2 linked regions of the Homo sapiens genome follow. The protein of the gene in region 2 binds, or shares a complex with, the protein of the main gene of each other region. Each region holds a gene or a part of one and is shown on either strand. Other genes may lie near its edges.

Evidence for each region.
Region 1: CAPZB (region 2) and CAPZA3 share a complex: the UniProt entries of both Homo sapiens proteins name them as parts of the WASH complex.

The regions. Positions count from the first base shown.
Region 1 is NC_000012.12:18,733,443-18,739,964, reverse strand, and holds CAPZA3 (F-actin-capping protein subunit alpha-3), read right to left. Parts: upstream 1,847-6,522; 5' UTR 1,697-1,846; coding exon 797-1,696; 3' UTR 777-796; downstream 1-776. Other genes in the region: PLCZ1 (1-phosphatidylinositol 4,5-bisphosphate phosphodiesterase zeta-1), read left to right, coding at 2,594-2,604, 3,621-3,744. UniProt on the Homo sapiens protein: F-actin-capping proteins bind in a Ca(2+)-independent manner to the fast growing ends of actin filaments (barbed end) thereby blocking the exchange of subunits at these ends.
Region 2 is NC_000001.11:19,338,275-19,342,835, forward strand, and holds the end of CAPZB (F-actin-capping protein subunit beta), read right to left. Parts: coding exon of another isoform or gene 4,488-4,561; exon of another isoform or gene 4,478-4,487; intron 1,344-4,477; coding exon 1,256-1,343; 3' UTR 501-1,255; downstream 1-500. UniProt on the Homo sapiens protein: F-actin-capping proteins bind in a Ca(2+)-independent manner to the fast growing ends of actin filaments (barbed end) thereby blocking the exchange of subunits at these ends.

The sequences.
Region 1 (6,522 bases), on a different chromosome or scaffold from region 2:
ACTAGTACCAGATTAGTGATGAAAAATGTTATGCAAAATATTTAGCACAAGCCATGTTATGTAATAAGTACTTCTAAGTGTTTACAGTGACGACTTCACAAAAGCCTGGCTGTAAAAGTTTGGGAAGTCAGGCTTCTCTGGTTGGCTTGGAAGACCATGTTAGTTATCAGACAAGCCAGGGATTTTGAGTAACCCCAATTCTTGAGGGGAAGAAAGTAGAGTGGAAGAGGAGCCAAAATTACTAATAGTCCTTCATCTGAGCTAGATTTTTGATATCTGTTGGTTTTGTGGAAAATCCAAACCTAATGTCTTTTATTGAAATTCCCCATCTCGTGGATGGTCTAGGACTGAATTGAGTTATGTAAAATATCATTTGTGGAGTGATATTCATTTGTATACCTTTTCAGTTCGAAACAGTCAAAAGTCTCTCTCTCTCTCTCTCTCTCTCTCTCACACACACACACACACACACACACACACACGTACACACCCACACACAGCCTTAACCCTGGCCACCTCTATACTATTTCTGGAATCCCAGATTCTATAAAACTATTTTAGTTTCTAACAAATGTCTTGGTCTTTATGATGGTCACCACCATGAAACACAGTTACTTTACACTTTCTTGCCTTGTTCATAAATATTCCCCAAGTAAAATTACTTGCTACACTTTTCCCATTTAAATTTGCATTGGCTAAGTGAGAGACATCTCTACAGATTGCTCAATTTTAGGAAAATAACCATTCCCAAGAAACACAAACAAGTCAAATCAAGATAGTTACCAGGAGCAATTCTTTATATTATCCAGTTGCACAACACACTTCTTGAATAAATGACATATCCTAATTTAGGATACATCACCAGATTCAAGTCAGAGAGTATCCTGTGCCAGTCAATAAGAGTGCGGGTCACTGGAAGATCCCTTCGTAGAATTTTTCTCAGGGCTTCATTGGATAACTCCTGTAATTCTTCCAAGACTGCAGCTTGAAATTTGTTCTCTTGCTCTTCCACAAGCCTTGCAAAACTTAGAGCCAGTTGAGCTTGGTTAACTATTTCCAAGCTTTCTTTCAGGTCCTTGGATATTTCAATATGAAGGTTGACACACCTGAAGAAGTGAGCTTGCACAAATATTCTTCCCGTTACTTGGGTTAGAAATGGGTTAACTTGGAAAATCCATTTAGATTTCCAAAGTCCGTTCCAGCACTCTCCTGTTTCATAGTTGTGATCTTCAATGCAAGCTATCAAGTACTCCTTACTTTTGACAGTTTTTCTCAGCATGTTGCAATTTCCTTTTGGATAGTGGTCATTCACATACAGTTTTAAGGCGCACAGAAGAACAACTCTCAGGTATTCTGCCTCATTCTGAATGATACCATGACTTTGGATGTCTTTCAGCTGATTTTGAAGCAGGTCATATTTGAAAGAAAGTTTGCTTTGATGGTCAAAAAATCGGTAGTCGCCCATTACATTGTGGTGAGACAAGAGTACTGGATTTCCATCGATGCAGAGTGGTACAGAATATTTTTGGCAGTGTTGGTGGCCTGCACACTCACCTTGGTGGTGCATAAGTTTTTCATCACGGATAAGCAGACAGAGATCATCAAAGGCATTTACAAATTCCCCTGGAGGGGCCTGTAATAACAGTCTGCGAATTACTCTTTCCTTGTCCTTCCTGCTCAGCACGCTAAGTGTCATGTTTGGTTGCAACAGAAGCAAAGCTTCTGAAATGAGGAGTGTTCAAAGGATAAGAAAACATTCCATGAGCCACCTTTCCCATCAAGGTGTTAACATTCAAGCTGAAGGTTTTTATGTCTATCCATGAAAGCAGGCAGTCTGGCAAGGTCTGAGCCTCCTGATGAGGTCATAAGAAGCTTTCCTTGTGAAGTGTGGAACCTCTGATGATATCACAATGGGAATTCAGACCAAAAGGAAAAAATGACAGTCACCTGACAGTGTGGTGCCCAGCCAACCAGCTATACCTCTTTTGAAGATTTTAAGAACTTAGCCTCCTGAACAGTCTTCTTCGAAAGTGGTGTGTCTCTGTGTGCATTATATGTTGTCAACGATCTAGAGAAGCAGCCCAAAGTTTCAAGAGTGACAGCACTTTGCAACTTCAGGAATCACAATGGTGTTGATTTATACTCAGGCTCTCAGAGTAGCTGCCCAAACCCACTGGAAGCATATTATGATGAAAGGTTTGAGGGGTTTAAACAAAGTAGTAAAAAATAAAAGGAGATACAATGGCAGTTCATGGAAAAATGCCAGACATCAGGGAAAGCTGTGTTTTCAAATATTGTGGGTTTGGAGGTGGTCAGAACGTAAGAAGCCAAACAGTTTCAAGGGCAGGGTAGTGCAGGTACCACATCTTGCATACTGTTTCTATGGTTAAGTGTGAGCTAGCTTCAAAGAACGAAGGCAAAAAAAACCACTGTGTGTTCTCTGCTTTCTCCCTAGAAAAGTGGTAACAGCTGATGAGTATCAAGAAATTATTTTCTGCAAAGGGGCAGAGTTAATTGTATTTGGAACCCATGACAGCACCTACTGGGGAAAGACTTCTAAGTGAGGAGAAACGGCTCTACAGGTCATGAAACTATGGAAATGAGATATCCATTGAGAGCTTCTTTCTGCTCCTCTTCTTCTTTCTCCTACTTATCCTCTTTACTTGATGCTGTTATTCTTTTCGAGGAGTTCTGAATTTAAGTCCTCTTCATTTAAGTTGAACTGCTTTTCCCTGTTTGTTCTGAGCTTTTCTAACTTTCCCTGCATTCTGGTATCTTTTTCTTACAAGAACATGAGCTTTGCTGGATTAAGTCATAACTATTAAATTTAAGGAGATCTCATTAATTCGTTCTAACAATCTGAAACTTAGTAGTTTTGCACAATTTTTACCTATACCTTTTATAATTTTAGTGATAATTGTCATTATCTCATTTCGATCTTAGTTTTTCAAATGGAAGTGTCCTAGTTTTTGTAGTTTATCTATGATAAGTAAGCTTTTAAAAATTTTTTTCGTTTTTCATACCAAATATACACTCACCATGGTATTTCTGATGCTTTTTGATGGTACTGTCTTGAGTGTGTGTGTAGCTGGGCATTGGACTAATGTAGTAATAATAACTTTATCAGTCATGGTTACTATTTATTGAACACTAAGTAGCAGAAACTGTGTTCGGTGGCATATTAGGAATTCATCTAATGCTTCCACTTTCCTTAAGATTCAGGGTTAATTTGCTCACCTTTCTGGAAGAGAGAACTAAAACAGAGAGGTCAGGTGAGAGGCGATCTTGAAGTCTAGCTGCCTTCCAACTTCATGCCTTCAGGCAATAGATTGTTATAATGTTTTAATGTATGTTCTAAGTAATGACTTCAATTCTCAAATTTTAACTTTAATTCTTTTTTTTGTATTTTTACTGTGCTATGCCCTTTCATACCTTTACCATAGCATAGTAACTACTTAATTTTGTTTTTTAAAAAATATTTATCATACAATTATACTATAATTTACTTTAAACATATTCTTTAAAAATAAAAATAATACAGTAAATCAAATGTTTCTTTAGGAATTTTAAATATTCAATGACTTTCTGTGAGAATTTCCTTAACTTTTTTGTGCTTCTACATGGTTTTTGTCAAAGATTCAGGATGACTTCAGAGGTGGAAAAATTAACCTAGAAAAAACTCAGAGGTTACTTGAAAAATTAGATATTCGGTGCAGTTATATTCATGTGAAACAGATTTTTAAGGTAAGATGACATCCACCCCCTGCCTATCCTATCCTAGGTGGAACTTAATCCAATGTCAGTAATTGTCATATAAAGGTTAGTCTCTTAAGAAGAAAAGCAATTAATTATACTAACTATATTTACAATCAAGATGGAGAGCATTTCAGTAGAAGGTAAAATTAGTTGTTGAGAAAATCTGAAATAATACCAGGATATCAGTTTAGAATAATTTCCTGAGCATACAGAAATGCTAACATTAAACCTAGGATTGGATGTCTAATTATATCAGACTGATAATGGTAACTGTATTAGATGTTAGTGATTTATAAAAAGAGTGGAGAATAAGCCCAAAGTTAGCAGAAGGGAGGAAATAATACAGATTAGCACAGAAATAACTAAAATAGAAAAGAAAAAAATTAGAAGAAATTGAGGAAACTAAGACTTGTTTTTTTGAAAAGTTAAATAAAATTGACAAATACTTAGAGTAAGAAAAAAGAGAGAGGAGTCAAATAAAATCAGAAATGAAAGTGGAGACATTACAACAGATCTCACAAAAATGAAAAACACATAGAGCAATCATACACCATAAAATTGGACAATCTAGAAAAAAAAGGGAAATTTCAAGAACCATATAACCCATCAAGACTGAACCAAGAAGAACTAGAAAGGTTAAACAGACCAATAACAAAAAGGAGACTGAGAGGCTGTGTGCAGTGATTTGTACCTGTAATCCCAATGCTTTGAGAGGCCAAGGTGGGAGGATCACTTGGGGCTAGGAGTTTGAGACCAGCCTGGGTAACATAGTGAGACCCTGTTTGGAGACTTAATCAGTAATCAAAAACTGCCCAACGAAGAAAAGCCCAGGACCAAATGACTTCACAGGTGAATTCTACCAAAGATTTAAAGAAGAATTAATACCAATCCTTCTGAAATGCTTCTAAAAAATAGAAGAGGGAACACTTCCAGTTTTATTTTATAAGGTCAACATCATCTGGATACCAAAGCTGGACAAAGGCACCACAAGAAAACAAAACTTTAGGCCAATATTCCTGATGAACATAGATGCAAAATTCCCCAACAAAATAATAGCAAATCAAATTTATAGCACTTTAAAAGGATCATATTCCATGACCAAATAATATGTGTCCCTGGCATGCAAGGATGGCTCAACATACAGAAATCAATCAATGTGATACACCACATTAACAGAATGGAGATAAAAATCACATGATTATCTCAAAAATATAGAAAAAGCATGTGACAAAATTTAACTCCCTTTCATGATAACTCTCAGTAAATTAAGTATAAAAGGAACTTAACACATTAAAGTCCATATATGAAAAGCTTACAGCTAATATCATATAAAATAAACTGAAAAGATTTTTTTCTAAGATCTGGGAAAAGGCAAGGATGCCCACTCTCACCACTTCTGTTCAAGATGGTACTGGAAATCCTAGCCAAAGCAATTAGTCAAGAAATGAAAATAAAAGGCAATTAAATTAAAAAGGCAGAAGCAAAATTATCTCTATTCACTGATGGCACAATCTTACATGTAGAAACTCCTGAAGATTTTGTTAACAAACTACCACAAGGCCGGGTGTGGTGGCTCATGCCTGTAATCACAGCACTTTGGGAGGCTGAGGCAGGTGCATCACCTGAGGTCAGGAGTTCGAGGCCAGCCTGGCCAATGTGTTGAAACCTCGTCTCTACTAAAAACACAAAAATTAGCCAGACGTGGTAGTGCACGCCTGTAATTCCAGCTACTCAGGAGGCTGAGGCACGAGAATTGCTTGAACCTGGGAGGCAGAGGTTGCAGTGAGCTGAGATTGCGCCACTGCACTTCAGCCTGGGCAACAGAGCGAGAGTCCTCAAAACAACAACAACAACAACAACAACAAAAACAACTACTAGAACTATTAAATTCAGTAAAGTTGCAAGATACAAAATTACTATGTAAAAATGTGTTGCATTTCTATTCATTAACTATGTACTATCCAGAAAGAAATCAAGAAAACATTTTCATTTACACTAGCATTAAAAAATATATAATGCTTAGGAATAAATTTAACCAAGGAAGTGAAAAACTGGCACACCAAAACTGTAAACCACTGATGAAATAAACTTTAAAAGTTACAAATAAACAGAAACACATCCCATGTTAATATATCCATACTACCCAAGGTGATCTATAGATTCAATGTAATCCCTACTAAAATCCCAATGGCATTTTTGTTTTGTTTTCACAGAAACAGAAGAAACAATCCTAAAATTCATATTGGAATCAAAAAAGACCCTGAATAACCAAAACCAATCTTAAAAAAGAAATATAAAGGTGGAGGCATCACAATTTTTGGTTTCCAAATGTATTTAAAATACTTCAGTAATTGAGGCAGTATGGTAGGGGCATAAAAACAAATATGTAGACTAATGGAACAGAATAGAGAGCCCAGAAATAAACCCCTTCATATATAGTCAACTGATCTTCTACAAAGGTACTAAAATACATAATGGGGAAAGGATAGTCTCTCCAATAAATGGCATTGGGAAAACTGGATATTCGCATGTAAAAAATGAAATTGGACTCTAACCTTACCCCATATGCAAAAATCAACTCAAAATCCATTAAAGATTTAAACTTGAGACCTGAAACTATGAAACTCATAGAAGAAAATAGGAAAAAAGCTTTTTGACATTGGGCTTGGCAAGAATTTCTTAGATATGATTCCAAAGGGATTGAAACAAAGACAGGTAACAAAAACTTGTCTAAAAATAGAAAAGTGGGATTACATGAAACAAAGT
Region 2 (4,561 bases):
AAAAAGATGTTGCATCAGACCCAGGGACCTCAAACACATGGGCTGGCCAGGTTGTGGAGCCCGCTGATTGGCCACGGACAGATGGGGGGATGGTCTCGGCAGGGACTTTGAGATCTGCTTCAGATCTTCCCTGGGGCAGTTTGGAGGGTAGAAGGCAGACTCTGTGGCTCTGTGCAGCCTTGGCTGAGTTACTGCAACTGAACCTCGGCTGCCTCACATTTGTACTAGGCACAGTGGGAAGGCGGCGGGAGGTGCGTGCTGCGGCGCCAGAACAGTGTTTGCTGGTGCTTCTGCCCTCCAACGGCAGAGGGCGGAAAGGGACAGGGACTCTGCACCTCATCACATACCTGGTGTTTTCAGGGCGGCGGGGCTGGGGACGGGACACTTCCTTGCTGCCGTGAGCGGGGCCCACACGCGTCCCAGCTTGGAGCCAGCGCACGGCCACGGCCACACGCGCTCGGAAAGCGAGGCCGGCGAGAAGGAACACAGAAGGCCAGCGCTAACTGCGCCCCAGTTTCTTTTTATTGATTTCTTTTCTTTTCTTTTTTTAAGTATGGAGGCTCAAGTATAAGATGTAGATTTTTTTCTTAAGCTTTACAAAAAAACAAAATAAAACAAAAACCTCCTTTTGCATTCCATAGAAATTGACAGAAAAGCACCTGGCCGGAAGAGCGGAACGGTCGGCGGCACCCCCCCCAGCCCCCACCCCGCGGCCTCCGTGGGACGGGAGAGTCTGCGCAGGACGGCACCGAGGGCCACCTCTGCTCCCAGAGCTGTCCCCTGTCCCCACGACCCCCAACCCCAAGCAACTCCCAAACACACACGGAATAAGATTTCCAGTTTTTCTTCTCTCTTTCACACACCACAGTTAGTTCATAAAATTTTTTTGTTTTACATTTTTTACACCAATGTACCAAAAAGGTGGGAGGGAAGGGAGGCTGGCAGACAGTGGATTTTATGCCTATAAATGGGGGGACAGGGAGGAAGACGGGGGGCCCGGGTGAACAAAAACCACACGGTCTCTATGGAAATGTGGAGAGAACTGAGAGCGAGGTGTGGCAGAAGCAGGCTCGGAGCCGGAGGAGGGTGGCTATCGGCTTTATTCTCAGGGAGAGATGGCGCTGTGCGGTCAATGATGCAGCTGTTATGTGACCTGTCGGGGAGGGAAGGGACGAGGGAAGGGAGCAGAAAACGAGTTTTCTAAGAAAGGAATCTAACGAGTGCACGGCGTGTCTGGTTAGCATGAAACAGAGGTTTAGCATTGCTGCTTTCTCTTCAAAGCCTCCACCAGGTCATTCTTCAGAGCTTCTTGTTTTGATTTGTCTGCAAAAGTCTGCACAGACCTGCAAGGGAGGAAAGGCGTTATCAGCAGATTGAACAGGGACTGGTGAGGCGGTGGAGGCCTGGGGGCCACCATGCCAGTGCCTGGCTGATTTGCTGCATGGACCCGCTTCCTGGGGTGAGGCTCTGGGTCACTGGGCTGGGCATCTGCCCCTCTCAGAAAGGGGCAAAGGGGTACATGGCCGAGACCTGCACCCTCTGCACCTTGCCAGGCCCTGTGGGGGTGGCATATGGCTTACATGGACAGGTGCTCATCTCTGCCCCTGGCCACCGGTGACCCGGCCATAGTCCCTAGAACCCTAAGTTCACTCCTCTGTGTGTAGGTCCCTATGTCACCCTAAGCCACAAGGTGGCTTCTGGGCTTCCAAACACAATGGAACAAAGCCCCTCTGCTTCAGAACAGCTACCCTGGGTTGCTGGCTGGGGACTCAGGCCAGGGGCTAAGAGGGGAGGACTCCGGGGCCATGCGGGTTCCTCTATAAAAGCTTCTCCCTTGCCCAGGCCCTGCCCAGCAGAAGAGCCTCATTCCTCATCCCACAAGTGCAAGGTGCAGCGTTATCCCACCCTTGGGAGTGGGTAAGAACCAGTGTCTCTGCGTGTCTGAGCACACTGTGTTTATGGCCCACGCAGCAGGTGCTTTCAGGCCTCTGCTGTGAGGCACCATCCGCTGTTAACTTGGCCCAGAAAACCCCTCAGCCCGGATTGCAAAGGGCGGCACAGGACAGCCAAGTGCCCCTGGGATCCCTGCTGTCAAATTCTGGATTTGTGGGGAAACGTTCAGGGCGACCGCATTCACGTATGTGTGGGGACGCTCATCAACAAAGCCAGAAACAATGAAGGCTTATGGAGATTTCACAGTTTACAAAACGCCTTTCACATATATTATCTCATTTAATTTTCACGGGCATCCTGGGGAAGTCTCAACTATCAACCCGGCCGGATGTGGTGGCTCAAGCCTGTAATCCCAGCACTTTGGGAGGCCAAGGCAGGAGGATCATTTAAGGCCAGGAGTTCAAGACCAGCCTGGGCAACATAGTGAGACCCCATCTCTACAACGACAACAACAAAAAGCGAAGTCAAGGCTTAAAAAAGAAAAAAGCTATCAACCCAATTTACAGATGAGGAAACTGAGGCTCAGAGGAATGCCCCCCTAGCAATTCTTTAATCATTTTGTCAAATTTACCCAACATATTGGTTAGGCAAAGACTTCCTAAATGTAGGTTTTATAACAGTTTAGAAGCAGTGGAAAGAGTGGGTAGAGGGCTGCTCAAGAAGAGTGCTACGGAGAGTGCACTCAGCCGGACTCTCACGTTTGATTCACACCAGCCATGGGAAGGAAGAATCAGAAAAATCAATCCCCAGAAGCAAAAATGGGCAAATGGAAGTGAAGCAGGGCCCAGGAGAAGCAACAGCACCCAGACTGAGTTCTGGCTACCGAATCCCTACAAGTCACAGGAAGAGCCCTCAAAATACTCAGCAGGTGCCATAAGACAAGACCTGGAAGCAAGCTGCATACAACTGAAAAAACTCCCAGGAGAAACGCAGACATTTGGTTCATGCTGGGGAAATACACGTTTCTGAGTATCTTCCCAGGACTGTCCCTGGCTCTGCGGCGGCCAAAGGCATCAGCCCCCACGGCCCCCAGGCTCCAAATCTCAGCCGATTCCCCAGGGGCTTCTTGCCAAGCTCACAGCGGGAGGTCAACATGGCCAGCGGGAGATGCGGCGGGCAAAGCAGCAGCGCACAGGACCTCTAGCCTGGGTGGTCACTGGCTCTTCTGGGAAGGAAGAGCCAAGCCCGCCAGGTCTTGGCTGGATCACACGAAGGAGAAAGTTCCAGAGCTAGAATCATGTTAGACACAGGAAGTTAGAAGTGAAATGGTGGAAGGCGGAAGGAGCAGGGGGCTTATTTAAGGGACAATGCTTGGGAAGGTCACGGCCAAGCAACCTCGAATCAGCGCTTGGAGACAGTGCTCGACTCTGTGGGAGGGAGGAGTCATCTTGAGCAGACCTGGCTGCCAGGGTTTCTACGCCAGGACGCCCCCAGTGGGCGGCCAGGGAACTGCACCATCACGGTGTATCTTAAAAAGAGTTTTTTCTCAATGCCATGATGGAAATGCCTGATGGCCACACTGTGAGGCTGACCCGAGTCGTGGGCCTTAAGTTGGCACACACAGACCAGACTGGTGCACTTAAGTCCCACGGCCTCGGAAAAGCAGCTCCACCTGGTTTTCTAAGTGCCTGACCCCACCTCCACCTTGGAAAGTCTGCTGCACCCCTTCTGGGGTGGGCCTTCAGTGCGCAGCCCCTGGACCTGGGCTCTGCAGCCCCAGTTGGCAGGGTTCCAAATGCCTTCTTTTTACAAACAAGTTTCCCTCCTACTCTCCAGGGATGCTGCCTCCTTCCCTACATCTGGATCTGTCACAAGCTCAAGTCATGGTTCTTGGCCATTACCAACAAGCAAGACTATTTTCCTTTCCATTAGCGAAACCTGTTTAAAGGAACAGCTGCAGCTCGTTAGGGGCGGAAGGTTATGCTGGTTGTGGCCGAGTCGGCACTGGGCGTCCAGGCAGCTCCAGCAGAGCATCTGGGCCAGCCAGGGTGGAGTCCAGCCCTGACTCTGCCCTCCAACCCCAGAGACTCAGAGATCAGAGAGTGAGGTCACCCCTTCCAAGCCAGCTAGCCCTGGACAGGCAATGTGCCGCTGAGCAGCGGGGAGGCTTATGTGGCTTCTGGGATCCCTGCACCAGCATCAGAGGCTCCTCTGAAGCATGGGGGGGTGGACGGCAGGCAGATCCCTGCCCTGGGGACAGTCAGGCCGGTGCACACAAGTGGCTGCTGCTGGAGAGGCAGCATCCGTCCCTTGGCCTGGGCTTCTTCAGAAGCAAAAGCCAAAAAATCAGCCGTCTTCCCCACACCCAGCCTCCACCCAGAGTGGAAAGCACACACACGTGATAGGTGCCGTGTTACATGGGGCCGAGGCTACACGGGAATGTGGCTGTGCACCGACCGGGAGCACACGTGGGGGTTAGTGGTGGTTTAAATGGCCGCGGAGCAGCAGCCGGACCGGCAGGGTCTCGGCGGGTTGGTGAGTCCTGTTTTAGTGGGGAGGGTCTCGCGGCTCTCAGGCAGGGTACCTGGATCGGCTTAATTATCAGGCTGGATGTAGATCTGGCGCTGGGTCAGCACTTGAGAGAGCTCCCTCTGCAACTGCTTAAACT